Linked DNA regions of Homo sapiens: region 1 is linked to region 2. The links come from fine-mapping of genetic effects on gene expression. A gene starts in region 2. The other region holds a variant in brackets. All regions are shown on one strand. Distances are from middle to middle.

What was found. PIP is the estimated chance that this variant, and not a neighbour inherited with it, causes the effect.
Region 1: its variant is fine-mapped to the expression of CKAP4 in whole blood (TOPMed, PIP above 0.99).

What each region holds. Positions count from the first base shown.
Region 1 is chr12:106,222,818-106,231,146 of GRCh38, reverse strand. No RefSeq gene overlaps it. Among named protein-coding and RNA genes, the nearest start is that of CKAP4, 21 kb to the left of the region's middle. RefSeq lists a silencer at 6,761-6,870 and an enhancer at 6,921-6,970. The variant C/T (reference allele first, on the strand shown) is at 3,395.
Region 2 is chr12:106,244,934-106,253,262 of GRCh38, reverse strand. It overlaps CKAP4 (cytoskeleton associated protein 4), which reads left to right and starts at 5,243. Exons shown (of 2, transcript NM_006825.4): 1 at 5,243-5,894. The coding sequence starts at 5,412. LOC124903008 (a long non-coding RNA gene) reads right to left here and starts at 4,991. Exons shown (of 2, transcript XR_007063443.1): 1 at 4,504-4,991; 2 at 476-3,592. RefSeq lists silencers at 4,668-5,007, 5,038-5,347, 6,008-6,097.

The DNA of each region.
Region 1 (8,329 bases), 22 kb after region 2:
TCTTGGTGCCTTTGCACGTTCCCTGGATCCTTCAACCCAAACCACAGGCTGAATTTGGGAGCTCCTCCCACGAGAGCCCACACTCCAGGCTTCTTGTCTTCAAAGTGCTCCTCTGTCTGTATCATGACCGCTTGCTTCTGGTGTGTTCCACATGAGAATAAGGCTCTGTCTTTCATCTCTGCATCCACAGAGATCATTGTGCTTGGCCCACATCAATAATAACAGAAATAACTAAAATTTATTGAGCATTTACTATGTGCCAGACACTGCTCTAAAGGTTTTACGAGGATTATCTCATTCAATCATTATAATAGTCCTAAGGGTAGGTACTATTGGCCTCTCCATTTTACTGATGGGGAAACTGAGGTACAGAGCGATTCAGTAACTTGGACAAAGTACTTCCTAGTCATAGCTAGCAAGTGGGGTAGCCAGGTTTAGAACCCAATAGCTTGAGTTATTAGGTTGGTTCAAAAGTAATCGTGTTTTTTGCCATTAAAAGTAATGGCAAACCATTACATTTTAATGGTAAACCATTAAAATTTTGTACTGCTCTAGAACTGGTTTCTTTTCTTCACTTAAAAAGACATCACTGTTTGGGATTACTTTTTGTTGAGGTGCAACTTTGGTGCTTTAAGGCACACACATCTGAAATATATGGCTGAATGAATTTCTGCACACGATATCTCCATGTACTCACTACCAGATCAAGATATGCAACTTTTCCAGCACACCAGGGGCTCCCCGTGCTCCTCAGTCAATACCCTCTAACCTAACCACTATTCTGCTATCACCATAGAATATTTTGCCCATTTTTGAATTTTGTAGAGATGAAATCATACCATATAAGACTTGGTATTTCTTTTAAAAAATGACAGCTTTACTGAGATAAAATTCACATACCATAAAGTTCACCCTATTAAAGTGTACAGTTGTTTTCAGCATATTCACAGAAGGCTGGAAACATTCCTATCTGGATGAATCTTGCCCAGCCATATATTAAAAAAAAGTGTGAGACATAGTAGGTGTTCAATAAAGGGCAGCTGTTTGAGAACATACTGACTTCTGAACTGGACACTGCATTTGTCCTGATGGTCAGTAACTCAGAGAGAAAAAGAGAGGGTGAGGTGTAGTGGACGTTTTCTTCGTCATACCCCTCTGACTGGGTTCACAGAGGGAGGACCTAAAACCTCAGAGGCAGAGGGTTGAATTGCCCTTCCCCGTCTTCAGGATGTGTTTGGTCAAGGGATTGATTCCACCTACTGTCATTTATTATAAACTGGGTGCTGAGCTGCATTTGCTCAGCGGAGATGAGATGAAAGATGAAGTCTTCCTCTTTGAGAGGCTCCCAGCCAAACAGGGGACACAGACATGTAAATGGCACCATAATCACATGCAGGGTGACCTGTGCAGCGGTCAAGGGACCACATGAGGACTGCTGGGTCCTGGACATGTGTTGTTGCCTGCCCAGCATCCAGTCCTCCTTCATTTGGTGACCACTTCTCTGTTTTCTGTTAGGGAATCACCCCTTCCCCACTCTCAGTCCATTTGGCTTTGATGAGACTGACTGGGCTGAGTGCATGACCCAGGTTTGGCCAATCAGAAATCTGGTTTGACTTGTGCAGGAGGAATACAGGTCGCCATCCAGTCCATTGACTACTGCTGGAACTTTCTGGAAAGGGATGCTTTCTGCCCACCGGGACTGCCAAGCTGGATAAATGCCCAGGGCTGCTAAAGGCCACCACATGTGCAGAGTCCACTGAGAATGAGGCCAGCATAGAAGAAAACAGAACCAAGAGTCGGCAAAACACAGGTTCCTGAGGACATAGTTTGAACACCCAGGTCACTTGTGCTAGAGGCCATGTGTGTCTCCACAGAGCCCCTGAACACCACTGTGTCCCCTTTCCTGCGCACAAGGCGACATGCAGCCGTGGAGAGAATGGGCACAGCAGCGCCGCTTACGAAGAAAGAAAAGTGGAAACACCGAGAAAGTAGCTACAAGATCAGTAAATCCACTATCACTTGTTCATACAATAGACCTCAAAACGACAACAAAAAGGAAGAAATCCTAATCTCATATATCGTGGGGATGAATCTCACAACTAAAATGCTGAGTGAAAAAATAAGCTGCAGACAAAATACACAGTGTGACACTTCAGAAATTCCTTAATTCTTAAAACTAAGACATTTTACCGTGTAAAATAATACTATACATTGTAGTGAAAGTACCAAGAAATGACTAGGAGACCGAATATCCAAATTCAGATCATTTGATTTCTTAGGCTGAGTGGAGGCTACCTAAGTATTCATGATATCACTCATAATACATTTTTTCTCCTTTCAATATTTTATTATGAAAATTCAAACAGCAAAGTTGAAAGAATTGTCCAGCGGACACTCATATATCTACTACTTAGATACTATAATGAACACTTTGCTATGTTTGTGTATCACATATATATCCATCTCCCCATTTTTACAATTTTTTTGAACAGTGTCTTGCTCTGTTCAGAAAAATAAAAAAATATGGGGAGATGGTATATATATATGTGATATATATACGTCCAGGCTGCAGTGCGGTGGCCGATCTTGGCTCACTGTAGCCTCTACCTCCCCAGCTCAAGTGATTCTCCCACCGCAGCCTCCCAAGTAGTAGCCGGGACTAACAGGCGTGCACCACCACACCCGGCTAATTTTTGTGTTTTTGTAGAGACAAGTTCTTGCCTTGTTGCTCACTCTGTTCTTGAATTCCTGGACTTAAGTGATCACCTGCCTTGGCCTCCCAAAGTGCTGGGATTACAGGTGTCAGCCACCATGCCTGGCCTCCCCATATTCCTGATATCTTTTCATAGGTCAGAAATATTTTGTAATTAAACTTTTTTTTTTTAAAGGGGAAGAAACACATAGAGAAAAGCTTATACTTTTAATAGTTAAACTAGTACAGGTCAGAAAACAAATGACGCCTACATATATTACGTGAAGTGCTGCATTTACGCATGATTACTTTTCATAGTAATGATAGCTAAGTAGCCATGTGACAGGCCTTAGAAAGCTAAGGCTGAGAGAAGGCTCTAATCTAATTCTGTTGTTTTACAGATGGGGAGGCTGAGTCTCAGAGAAGTTGTTCACCCAAGCTCATACACTAACTGGCTAAGAAGACAGGGCCTAATTTCTTCTCTTATCCCCCACAATTTGTTTTGGCTCCAGGCCTAAGCACAGATGCAAAATGCTCAGAAGTAAGCGAAGAATCAGGGCAGTTGAGTTGCTGCAGGCAGCAAAACCCACTCTTGGCAGGAAGGGGTGTGGCAGCCTGGCCTTGCTGTGCAAGCCCCCGCGTGTGGCAGCGAACACTCAGGAGCAATACCTGTTGGGTAATGGGGCTGTGGGGAAATCCCGG[C/T]CTGTGTTCAAATAGCTGGTGATGTTGTGTTGAAAGAGGCATTACCAACTGGGTGTGGCTGCTGGTGTGAGGACACATCCTGTCCCACAGAGTCCTTCATGGAAACTCAGAAGGCTAGGTCTTTTTGTTTTCTTCCATTCACGGGTATGATCTTGGTTTGCACTCCAGGACGGAGTTCTCACATGGTGTGACAAGAACAGCAGGGATGGGGGAAGTCACCTGGAATCAGGACTCTGGTCCGAATGCTGGCCTGCCGGGCTGTGCTGCCTAGGATAATTCACTTTCCTTCTCTGGGCCTCCATCTGTTTTCCCATCTGAAAAGTGAGGGGAGATAAAGTAATCTTCATGTTCTCTTCCAGATCCAACTTTCCTTGACTTTAACCATTGCACAAGAGTCTTTTGGAGCCTCGGGTGGGCAGGAGGAGGCCTAAGGGAAAAAGGACTAGACAGTGAGCAGATCTCTAGGGGCCAGGGTGGCTTCTGTCTTAACCAAGGGTCTGTTTGTAGCTCCCATGGGGGCCGGCACACACTGGGTCACAATTAATGTTTTCTCATTTATTGGGGTGAAATGGGGAATGTTGGCCGGGCCGGGCTGACATCTTGGATAACCTCATGTGAAGACTATTCACTTTCAGAAGATGCCGGGATGCACCAGTAAAAAATCCAGAGCGGCTCAAGCCCCTGAACTTTCAGCTGGGGAATAGCCCCAAATCAGCTGACTGTGGCAGTAGGAACCCAGAGAACATAATTGAAGTGAGAATTTATTGCCATCTAGTGTCAGAGTCAGGGATCACAGGAATGATTTCTTCATTTTTCGCTCTTGTTCCAGAAAGGGGATAAAATCCAATTGTACCATTAAAAATACCAGAGAAATCCACTATTTAAAAGACCTATGTGTGTATTTCTCTGTGACATGAATGCTTTTGTAATGTGTATACTATCCTACTAATTAGCCCCTTTTGAAAACTTAGGTAATAAAGGGTTTTGTTTAATATGAATCTTTTGTTAGTAGAAGTTTAGATACCGAAAGACCTTTATCGTTCCTATGTCAAGCTAGTTAAGAAGTGCGCAGTGGCTCACGCCTGTAATCCTAGCACTTTGGGAGGTCAAGGTGGGCGGATCACGAGGTCCGGAGATCGAGACCATCCTGGCTAACACGGTGAAACCCCATCTCTACTAAAAACACAAAAAATTAGCTGGGCGTGGTGGCACGTGCCTGTCATCCCAGCTACTCGGGAGGCTGAGGCAGGAGAATCGCTTGAACCTGGGAGGCGGAGGTTGCTGTGAGCTGAGATCACAGCACTGCACTCCGGCCTGGGCAACAGAGTGAGACTCTGTTTCAAAAAGGACAAAAAAAAAAAAAAGTGCAAGTGGCGCCCTTTAAATAAGGCAAGTCAAATGTTGGATGCTTAGTCCTTCACTTAAGTAATAGTCACCCATAATTGTGTTTTGTGTTTGATGTCATGCTTTAGGTGGAACACATTTATCATCTCGCTTACCCTGACGATTATCCCAGGGAGTAAAAGTGGTTGTCTCTGATTTACTGATCAGACACTAAGAAATGGTCATTAATTTGCTCTGGGAGCACGCAGTCTGTGGTAGCAGCAGGACTCGGACTCTGTTTGTCTCTAATAAGGCCTGCTTTTTGTCTGTTAAACCATACTCCCTTTCCCATAGTAATAAAATCAGCTTCCCATAATGTCCCAGGATACAACTATGTACTTGTACTGTGTGTATAGTACTGGTGGTTAAGACACTGGGTTCTGGCCAGGTGCAGTGGCTTGTGCCTGTAATCCCAGCACTTTGGGAGGACAAGGCAGGCAGATTGCTTGAGCCCAGGAGTTCGAGACCAGCCTGGGCAACATGGCGGAAAACCCCATGTCTACAAAAAATATAAAAATTAGCCGGGTGTGGTGATGCATGTCTGTAGACCCAGCTATTCAGGAGGCTGAGGTGGGAGGATTGCTTGAGCCTGGGAAGTCAAGGCTGCAGTGACCCATGACGGCAGCACTGCCCTCTAGCCCAAGTGAGACCCTGTCTCAAAAAAAAAAAAAAAAAAAAAGATAAGAAATTGGATAAGTTGAGTTTTTGAGCCTTACTATTTGAGTTCCCAGCCATGGCATATTCTATCTGTCTGACATCGGGACAGTTACTTAAGTGCTCCGTGCCTCAGTCTCCCCACCTATAAATGCAAATGATGCTAATGATAGTGCCTACTTCATAGGGTTGTTGTGAGGCTTACTCCATCTGAGGTGCTTAGAACAGTGGCCATGACAGTGAAGTGCTCAATAAATAGTACTTAGAAATTGACTAAATGCAGGGAATTTGAAATGCCAGGCTTGTGAAATGAGCCCTTCTATTGTTGGCCTGCAAAATGTGAGTTTAGAATTTTTTTTTTGACAGGGTCTTACTCCATTGCCCAGGCTGGAGTGCAGTGGCATGATCATAGCTCACTTGCAGCCTTGACCCTCCGGGCTCAAGCGATCCTCCCGCTTAATCCTCTCTTGTAGCTGGAACCACAGGTGCACACCGCTACACCTGGCTCGTGTTTTGATCTTTTCATAGAGACAGGGGTCTCACTATGTTGCCTAGGCTGGTATCAAACTCCTCAGATCAAGTAATCCTTGCACCTCGGCCTGCTGAAGTGTTGGGATTACAGGCATGAGCCACTGTGCCCCGTTGAGTTTGGAATTTTGATTATGAGTGCCTTCAGGTGGGCCTGTGTTTGATTGTGAGTGCCTTCAAGTGGGCCTGTGTTTGATTGTGAGTGCCTTCAGGTGGGCCTGTGTTTGATTGTGAGTGCCTTCAGGTGGGCCTGTGTTTGATTGTGAGTGCCTTCAGGTGGGCCTGTGTTTGATTGTGAGTGCCTTCAGGTGGGCCTGTGTTTGATTGTGAGGTCTTCAGGTGGGCCTGTGGCCTCTAGATTCTCACATTTCCCACCACTCACTTGTGTCTGCTTCTCCATTCATTTAGGCCTCCTGTCTGGCTCCTGGAAGCATTTGGTGTTTTGATCCTTGCAGTGAGTGAGATGAATTACATGGACATTGTCAACCTGATGGAAACTTTGGGCTCTTTGTCGACCTCTTTTAAGGGCTGTGACTTCATGGCTTTGTACATCAAAGAAGATCTTTGGGTTTTCTTGTGCAATTTGGCTTCTCCTGCCGAGAACAGAGGCTCTTCTAGCCAAGAACTAAAGCCCACCATGGCAGTCCCTCCCCAGATTCTTCTGCAGATGGCTACTTTCCTCCTAGCCTTCACGGGAAGGAACCGGGGCTTGCTGAGGTAAGGAGGGGCACAGGAGAGAGGGAGTAAAATCTGCAGAGAGGCAGCCCACACACTCAACCCCTAGAGCCCCTCTGCAGAGAAAGTCTATGCTGAGGAGATGTCAGAGCCACAGGACAGTCCTGAAAATCAGGTGCCACTCAGAGGCAATTGCCATCCACTACCAGAAGAGGGCACTGTAGTGCAGCGGCCCGGGAGGGAGCAGCTGCAGCCGATGAAGGTTCTAGGCCAGACTGCATGGAAGTAGCTGGGACCTGCCGTTAAGAAGCTTGGCCCAATTTTTCCTGATGGCCCCTTCTAGCTCTGACATTCTGCAATCCCATCAGGAGAGAACTGGAATGAATCAGCCAAGAATTCCAAGTGGGTTATAGAAGGAAGAAACCAGAAGCAAGGGCTGGGGGAGGAGGTGGGTGTGGCTGGAAAGTTTCTTTTGTTGGGGGCTAAAATCTGTCTAAGTGAATCCAGCAGGAGGAAAAAAAAGCCTTAAAACAGCTCCCCTGGGGTCACATGCTCAGGTTGGGCAGCCTGTCAAACCACCCCAAGTCGACTGGAATCCAACATGACATTATAGCTCACTCCTGCCCTTGTTGGAGGAGTGCTTAATCCCAAAGAAACAATTAAAGTTACAGATAGCACACACTGGTGGTTTGCCCATCTCTGCATTTTGTAAAAGCAGAGCCTATTTTCTTTCTTGATGGAACTGCCTTCCAGAAATGGCTTGCTGCAGAGTCTGTGGTGGCCTTGGGTGCTCCTTGGCAGAGATGAAAAGTGAAGTCAGCAGGCGAACCCTTTCTGGCTTGGCTCAGGCGGCCACCGAACATGCCTTGTTATGCTTCAGAAACCCCATTGGCAGTCCCCTCACCTCCCAGCCTCTGACTCTGGGCAGAGTCTCTTTCCATTGGAGTCATTTCAGTGGGTGCTCTGGAAGACTAAGGGCTTGTCATTAAGAGACAAATGGGTATTTTCGATGGTTCTGGGTATTTGTTTCTCCACTGGCCTCTGATCCTGCCAGAATCACCTAGCACCACAAAGCCAGCACCAGAAGTGTGAGCGCTGGATAGGGTGGGTGAGACTTGTTCAGGGCCCTCCTACCTCACTTCCCATTTTCCAGACTATTCCTGCATCCGTGGCTGTGGCCCTCTTACCCGCTGTCCTGGTATTACCCTTGGACTTGTTTCTGGAGCTGGTGGGGGCAGGATAGCCTCGTGGCTAGAAACTTAGGCTCTGCAGCTAGACCACCTGGGTGTGTGACTTGGGGCAAAGCACTTAAACTTATTGCCTCAGTTCCTCACCTGGAAAATGAGGTGATTATAATAGTACCTACCTCATAGAGTATTCGTGAGAAGTAAATCTATAAAGTGCTTACAGCATTATTATCAGGTACCTAACAAAGATTTGTTGAATATATACATGCATGTCTATATTACACAGATTGATGTATCCTGATAAAAAAAAATCTCAGAAGAAAATACATAAAAAAAAAATCTCTTGCTTTCTGTTTCTGGCCAGGTAGAGTAACAGGGACTGGATTTATCAACCTGTCTGAAACAACTAAATCATAAGCACATAATAAGTGCTCATTAAATGTTTACCATTATTATTTTCATGCTTTAACTCATCCCTCACAAGTGTGTGAAGCAGGTTGTATTATTA
Region 2 (8,329 bases):
CACTCCAGCCTGGGTGACAGAGCGAGACCCTGTCTCCAAAAAGAAAACAAAAAACAAAAAACCCCAAAAAGACTTTATTTTGTGCTCATTGTAGTGGTCATCATTCTTGTCGAGACTTCACTGCTTTGTGTATAGCATCAAACTGTGCCCCACAGAAAGGGATACAAGTAAATAATTGTTTAGCACCCTGTAGTTTACAAAATATTTTCATGGGCATTATCAACTGATACCACCTGAGGATATGGATGTGTTAGCCAAAATTTAAAGGAGGGTGTAGCGTTAGCTCATATCATACAGTCAATTTAATGAAGTGGCATCAAAATGTAAAACCATTTCATGTTCACAATATGAACAGTAGGCCTTCCTTATCCCGTCCCCCATGCCATCTCTGGGTCTTACCCATCCCTCAAGTTCACATTAGAAGGGCAGGGATGCTACTGAGCACTTATCTTAGGACTGCAAAAACAAGTAGAAATGTGTTTATGCATTCATTTATTGATTGCGACAGAGCAAGACCATCCCTACTATCACCATTGTCATCATCACCATCACCATTTCTATCATAATCACCACCATCATCCTCCTCCTCCTCATCATGTCCAGTGTAAGCTGGAGTGTAGTGGCGTGATCTCGGCTTACTGCAACCTCCGCCTCCTGGATTCAAGCGATTCTCCTGCTTCTGCCTCCCGAGTAGCTGGAATTACAGGTGTGTGCCACCACACCCAGCTAATGTTTTGTATTTTTAGTAGAGGCGGGGTTTCTCCATGTTGGCCAGGCTGATCTCGAACTCCTGACCTCAGGTGATCCACCTCTCTCAGCGTCCCGAAGTGCTGGAATTACAGGTGTGAGCCACTGTGCTTGGTCTATTTTTAAAGTAGTATCAAAATGTGCCCACATGAAAATGTCACATACTCATTCCTCAACCAAGAGGTGCCCCAGCTGGGCCCTTCCTCTTCTGCATGGACTTACAATATCTGGAGGTAGGCAGCTCCTGAGGATGTGCACCCCTGAGGCTGGGAAAGGTGGTCCTAGCTCTCCAGAGTCAAACTATAAAGAATGGCCCCCATCCCTAACACGTACTCAATTTGCAGGGCATCCAGGCTCATGCCTTGGCCACTGGGGGCCTTGCCAACCTGGAACAGACAAGAGGCAATCAACATTAACAGAGGCTTTCTATTTAGGCATTCTAACCAACATGCAAAAAGCCAAGAGGGCTGCAGGCTTACAAAGCTTGACCTTATAATTTATGGTGCATGTGGTATGAGGGAGTTCTGAGGCATTTTTACACAAGCTGGATGAAAGGATGAGATGTCTCCAGCTCCCCCTCTTCTCCGCCCACATTCCTGACCATCCAACACACTTTAGCAAGGAAAAGGGATAGAGGAAACAAAACTAGGAGGAAAAGCAGAAGAGAAACTCCTCTAGATTCATGCTGTGCTCAGAAACTGGGGTAGGAGAATGGAAGTCTCCAGGAAGAGCTGTTGATCCCTTCCTGCTCTGGAAGATGCACTTCTATGACTGCCCACCAGCCTCCTCCTCTGGGTGTAACCGAACACCATGGTGGAGCCACACTTCAGAGAAACACACTGCTTGCTTTTAACGTTAAACACATCCTAGCCTGTGGTTTGTGAGCCACATATGGTCCTGGGAGCCCCACGAAATAATGATGAAAGAAAATCGTTGAAATCTGGACACAGAAGCTCTCTGAAGCTATACTTTTCCTCAGTGACTCTGCAAATTGTATTAGCTGTCCAATATTCACTGAGCATTGCCATATGCCCAGTATCATATGGTGTCTCTTGTCTAATCCGCATAACAGCAAGGTTGTTCTTTTTTTTTGGGTGGAGTGCAATGGTGAACAGGGCTCACTGCAGCCTTGACTTTCCAGGCCCAAGTGATCCTCTCACCTCAGCTCCCCAAGTAGCTGGGACTACAGTCACACTCCACCATGCCTGGATAATTTTTTTTTGTATTTTTTGTAGGGACAGGGTTTTGCCTTGTTGCCCAGGCTTGTTTTGAACTCTTGGGCTCAAGCAGTCCATCTGCCTCGGCCTCCCCAAGTACTGGGATTATAGGTGTGAGCCACCACACCTGGCCTAGTGAGGTAGCAATTACTCCTGTCTTATAGCTGAAGATACTGAGGTTCAGAGAGGTCACACTCCAAAGTCAGTCATGGAGCTGAATTTGAACCCAAGTCAGTCTATTCTATAGCCTGTGTCTTAACCATTGTATGTACTATCTCCCAGAGGAAAAGAATGAGAGGGAAATGCTGAAAATATTAACAGTCCCATCGTCCTACTCTCTATTCATTCATTCAGTGCTCAGTAGAGGTAAAAATTGAGAAACCGTCCATTCTCATATCTGGCCTACAGTCTGCTTTTTTTTTTTTCCTGAGACAGGGTCTTGCTCTGTTGCCCAGGCTGGAGTACAGTGGTGCCATCATAGCTCACTATAACCTTGAACTCCCAGGCTCAAGCGATCCTCCTGTCTCAGCCTCCTGAGTGCCACCACATCCAGCTAAATTTTTTTTGGTGGAGTCAGGGTCTTGCTGTTATCTAGGCTGGTCTTGAACTCCTGGCCTCAAGTGATCTTCCTGCCTTGGCCTCCCATAGCGTTGGGATTACAGGTGTGAGGCACTGTACTTGGCCTGGATCAATTTTTAAAAATTTAAATATCATTTAATTATTTTTGATAAGGATCAGATGACTATTTCTCTAAGAAACGGATTAATAATAAGACAGGTCCTTAAAGATGCACCTTACAGAAAGGGTGACCCTGAAATCTAGAGGAGTTTAGGGATACTTCTCAAGGTCACACACTTTGGTAGCACTAAAGGAGTAGGGCTCTTGCTTTCAAGGCCAGATCTTGGCAGCAAGCTGCTTTACCAGTTATCACTGCCTCTGCCCCTAACATGGAGAACTGCTTGAAGGGGGATAACCTCTTTTTGCGCGCTAGAGATTTTAACAACACAACCCGAACTCAGCTGAATAGTTTTTAAACAAGGTTCCTGTGATGAGTGTCTTCTGATTTCTTCTGCTGTCTCCCCGCGCCACAGGTCAGAGACCTGTGCCCTGTTGAACCTAGAGGCTCCTACAATAGCTCCTGGTATTTAGCTGAAGTAGGGTGTTCCTCTCTGTCTGGGGCAGATGGTTGTATTTCTAGTCCAGAACCTGCTATAATTTACTCTGTCCTCCCACACTAATAGCGATTCTTCTATCTGCCAGCTTGGCTTCTATAGCCTTCTGCAATCTGGACCCGCTCCACCCAGTTCATCTCTTTCTTCTCTACATGTAGAACACACCCTCATGGCCAACAGGTGTCCTGGGCTCACCCCATTTCCGCCACAGAAATATCCTCCCTGCTCTCCTCATATGCAAATCATTCTTCAAGGCACTGCTCAAGGTCTTTCTGCCCCCAAAGCCTGCCCATGTACAGGCCAATGGTTTGCTTTCCAAATCTCTTTACATTTATGTTCCCAATTTACCTAAGTTAGCCCTCAACAGGTTTCTGTATATATCTCCAAGTGTAGTGCAGGCTCCTTGAGGGCAGGCACACAAGTGTTCATTCATTCACTGGAGGCTTTTAGCAACACCTTATAAAGCGAGAAAGAAGGAGAAATATAAACTATGGTTGCTTCCAGTCCTCAGGGAGGGGAGACATACCTGGCACACAGTGGGCCCTCAACAAAGGTTTGCTATATTGAACTAACATATATGCCTCTCGTTGCAATTACTTGCTAAGTCCCATGAGAGGTATCAAATGGTGTTATAGGGAAAGCATCATCAAAGAGGTGGCATTTGAACCCTATAGGCTTTAAGGGCAGGGCATGGTTTTGTCTTTGTTTACAGAACTGGGAGGAGGTTACAGACAGAAGAAACAGCATTCCTACTACACACAGTGCCAGGTGCACACAGTGCCAGGCACACATCACTCACCAGAAACTGGGGAAAGCAGTGGAATTGAGTGAGTTCTGTCCCTGCCCCGGCACCAATTAGACTGAGTGAGTGGGCAAGTTGCTTAACTTCCCTGGGCCCCCGTTTCCTTCCCATTCTGAAGTGATTAAGCTGCACAGACTTCAGAAAGAAGCAGACTGAGTGAGGTTCGAATGATGACTATATGTGACCTTGAGCCAATCCGAAGCCGGCTCGCTCAGTCTCAATTTCCTTCCTATAAAATGGGTAAAATAATTTCTACCTCACAGGGCTTTTGTGAGATTTCGAGAACATATGTGAGTCGCTAACCACACAGCCTGGCAATACCAGATTTCCTTTTACAAAAGTAGGGGTGACAACGCTGATCTGCCTCTTTCTGTGTGGCTGCTGCTGCCTCCGCAGCACCCATCCCAGAGGCTGTCAGGAGTAGGGGCCGTGGACAAACTTCATGACCCCGAAAGAGAAAACAGAGCTGAAGGGGCTTCGGGGGGAAAAAGTAAAGAGCTGGCCACAGCAGGCTAACTTGGCTAACGGGGACACTTGGTGAATGCGTCCCCTTGAACAGACTTACCACAGTCGAGAATCTTTGCTAACTCGCATCAACCATGCCTCCCAAGCTGGCTGGATTTTGGACAGCCTTTTTTGTCTCCGCCTTCAAACCCAAGGCAAAGGACAAGGCCCAACCCCATGGCGGGCTGGGAGAGTGAAAGCAGGGGGAGTCCCCCAATTCCCAGCGGAAAGGAAGGGCGATCTGTTCCCACCCGCTGACTCCCACTCCCGGGGCCAGGGCTCCTTGGGCGCCCCCCTTCATTTCTCTCCTCTCCGCACAGGTCGGGAAGGGAGGGGGTCGCGCTTGGCCCGCGGCGCAGGTTCACCCCGGCTTTCGTCCCTCCGACCCCGCCTGGCCGCCCATCCCCGACCCCCGTGGACCCTGCTCGGCCGCCCCGGCTGGGGTCGATCTGGCCCTCCGCCCCCAGCCTGCGTGGAACCCGCCGGGCCGCCAGCCCCACCTCGGCCGCGTCCCCTCCCCTCCGCTCCGCTCTTCTCCCCTCCCCTCGCGGCCACCTCGGTGCCCACCCCGGCCTCCGCAGACCCCGCCGGGACCCCGCCCCGCGCCCAGCCACCCCCGCGCCGGCTTCCCGGCCCCCGTAGACCCCGCCCGGCCCTCCCTCTCCGGGGTCGTGGCGGCGGGGAGGAGGGGCCGCCGGGCCGGCGTGCGTGGCAAGCTCTCCCGGCTCGGCTCGCTCGGCCTCCCTTACCGGGAGGCGGGGTCGGCGCCGCGGCGGCGGAGGCAGGCCCCCTCCTCCCGCCTCCTCGGCCCGGCCTCCTTCCCCGGCCGCGCGTCCTCTCGCCGCTCCGACGCCAGCAGCGCCCGCGTGCCGCTCGCCCAGTCCCGGGGGAGCCCCTGCAAGTTTCCCGGGCCGCGCGCCGCGCTCGCTCGCCTCCCAGCCCGCGGCCCGAGCCGCCGCCGCGCCCGCCATGCCCTCGGCCAAACAAAGGGGCTCCAAGGGCGGCCACGGCGCCGCGAGCCCCTCGGAGAAGGGTGCCCACCCGTCGGGCGGCGCGGATGACGTGGCGAAGAAGCCGCCGCCGGCGCCGCAGCAGCCGCCGCCGCCGCCCGCGCCGCACCCGCAGCAGCACCCGCAGCAGCACCCGCAGAACCAGGCGCACGGCAAGGGCGGCCACCGCGGCGGCGGCGGCGGCGGCGGCAAGTCCTCCTCCTCCTCCTCCGCCTCCGCCGCCGCTGCCGCCGCCGCCGCCTCGTCCTCGGCGTCCTGCTCGCGCAGGCTCGGCAGGGCGCTCAACTTTCTCTTCTACCTCGCCCTGGTGGCGGCGGCCGCTTTCTCGGGCTGGTGCGTCCACCACGTCCTGGAGGAGGTCCAGCAGGTCCGGCGCAGCCACCAGGACTTCTCCCGGCAGAGGGAGGAGCTGGGCCAGGGCTTGCAGGGCGTCGAGCAGAAGGTGGGTACCCCCGGCCCCGCAACTGTCCCCATCGACTGCGGCCTCCGGACCCACGGCCGGGCTCCTTCGTGCTTCCCGACCGGCCCCTAGCGCTGCCTGCCCAGGCCCGGAGGCGGGAGCCGGCCGCTCCTCCTTGGCGGGCCCTGGCCTAGACATCCCACTCCACGCGGCCCCCTAGTTCCGAGGCAGTCCCCAGACCCCCTTTGTTAATGGCTGCGGAGGAATCGGCCCCGAGGGATGGGCCGCCGCGAGGATGCCCAGGCCCGCCTGGCAGGGTGGGCCAAGGGCCTGTCACAGGGCATTAGCGGTGACCTGTAAGGAAGCCGGCAGGCTCCGGGGAGCCCATTCTTTCTGCATTAGGAACCGCTGAATGGGCAGAGCTGTCTGAAAAGGAGGTTGGAAGGGAAGCCAGCGCATCCCTGGAAGCCTCAGGCAAGGCCCCACCTCAGCTCTGCCTGTGGGAGACATCCGAGCGGGGTTTTTAATAGACCCGGAGCTGGCATTCTTACTCATTTGCAGGTCCAAATGAAATACCATCTATCTTTAGGTCCCTTGTCCTGTATTGGACCAGCCTGCCCAGGTGGGCCTTTGACGTAGTCCTACTTCAGCTTTTTTGGGTTTTCTTTTGAGAGGGAGTCTGGCTCTGTCGCCCAGGCTGGAGTGCAGTGGTACGATCTCAGCTCACTGCAACCTCTGCCTCCCAGGTTCCAGCGATTCTCCTGCCTCAGCCTCCTGAGTAGCTGGGATTACAGACATGTGCCACCATACCCAGCTAATTTTTTATTAGTAGTAGAGACAAAGTTTCACCGTATTGGCCAGGCTGGTCTCGAACTTCTGACCTCAAGTGATCCGCCTGCCTCGGCCTCCCAAAGTGCTGGGATTACAGGCGTGAGCCACTGCGCCCGGCCCTACTTCCGCTTTAGGGGAAGAGGAGGGCCAAAAATACTAGATCATACTGGTGAATAATACTTCTAGCCACATTTATATGGTGTTTAGAATGCTTACTCACTCACATATTATCTAATTCTTATAACTACCCTGGGAGGGAGGACTAACAGTTTTGATTTCATTTCCCAGAGCAGAACATTGAGGTTTAGACAGAGGAATGAGTTGACAAAGTCCCCAGCTGGTGAGTGACAGACACACGAGAATGTCTAGGCCACTGCCCTGTTCGTCAAGGGTCCACAGGGGTCCATTTCAGGTATGGATGGACCCAACTCTCAAGGCGAAGGTGCTTAGCTTCCACCCTTCTGTGGTTTTTCCATACCAAGTACAGCCCCTTTGATCTTATTCGCCCTCCACTATGTCATTGCTCAATGAAAGTTGGTTGCAAGACTGAAACAAAAAATCCCGCCACTTCTGATCCCGGAGCCACTGCCTCCTTTTCCCAGCATGCTGTCTGTCCTGCCAAGTTGCTCTCTGCTTTTGTTGAGTGTGCAGGACCAGGAATTTCCTCTTAAGACTGGCAGAGCACGGCCGGGCGTGGTGGCTCACGCCTGTAATCCCGGCACTGTAGGAGGCCGAGGCGGGCGGATCACCTGAGGTCAGAAGTTTGAGAGCAGCCTGGCCAACATGGTGAAACCCTGTGTCTACTAAAAATACAAAAATTAGCGGGGTGTGGTGGCACATGCCTGTAGTCCCAGCTACTCAGGAGGTTGAGGCAGGAGAATTGCTTGAACCCGGGAGGTGGAGGTTGCAGTGAGCGGAAATCCTGCCAGTGCACCCCAGCCGGGGCAACAGAGTGAGACTCCGTCTCAAAAAAAAAAAAAAAAAAAAAAAAGACTGGCAGAGCAACTGGAATGAGTCAGCCTGCTAAACGCTGCAGGCCAAGGGAGGTGACTTTTCTAAGGGAATTAAGTAGGCAGTGCTGCTTTGCCTATCCTGAATGTCAAACCATTCTTAAAAAATAGACATACTGCTGGAGTATAATGACTAGCCTCTGTTTCTTCTCTTTCATCCTCCTACTTACTAGTCAATCATAATATTTATTAAAGTCTGACAGTTGCATGGCTCTGTGTAGGCTTTGTGGGAGGGTATGAAGGAGCAAAAGACACGAATCACTTGTGCAGCGCATAAGGAGGTGTCAGTTGAGGGTAACTCCTGTGAAAGTTCAGAAGAGGGAGGGTGTGGAATTTCGCCTGTATCCCGGTGGCCAGGGTAGTGCCAGCCATCTAGCTGGTGATCGATAAATGTTGAGAGAAGGACTGTGATGAACACCGTGGCAGGGGCACTATTTTGAGCATGTTTGAGAGAGAGGAGGTGGCTACCCTGCCAATGGCAGAGTCACATGTAGGAAATTGTGAGAGAGGGTGGGTTGGAAGTTGAGGCCAAAATAGGGAAGGTCTTGAATCCAGGTTAATTCTCTGTGCTTCTCCCTGCCCCTCACTTAGTCCCTTCTTTTTGCTTCTCACCCCTTCTCCATCACAGCTATGTAT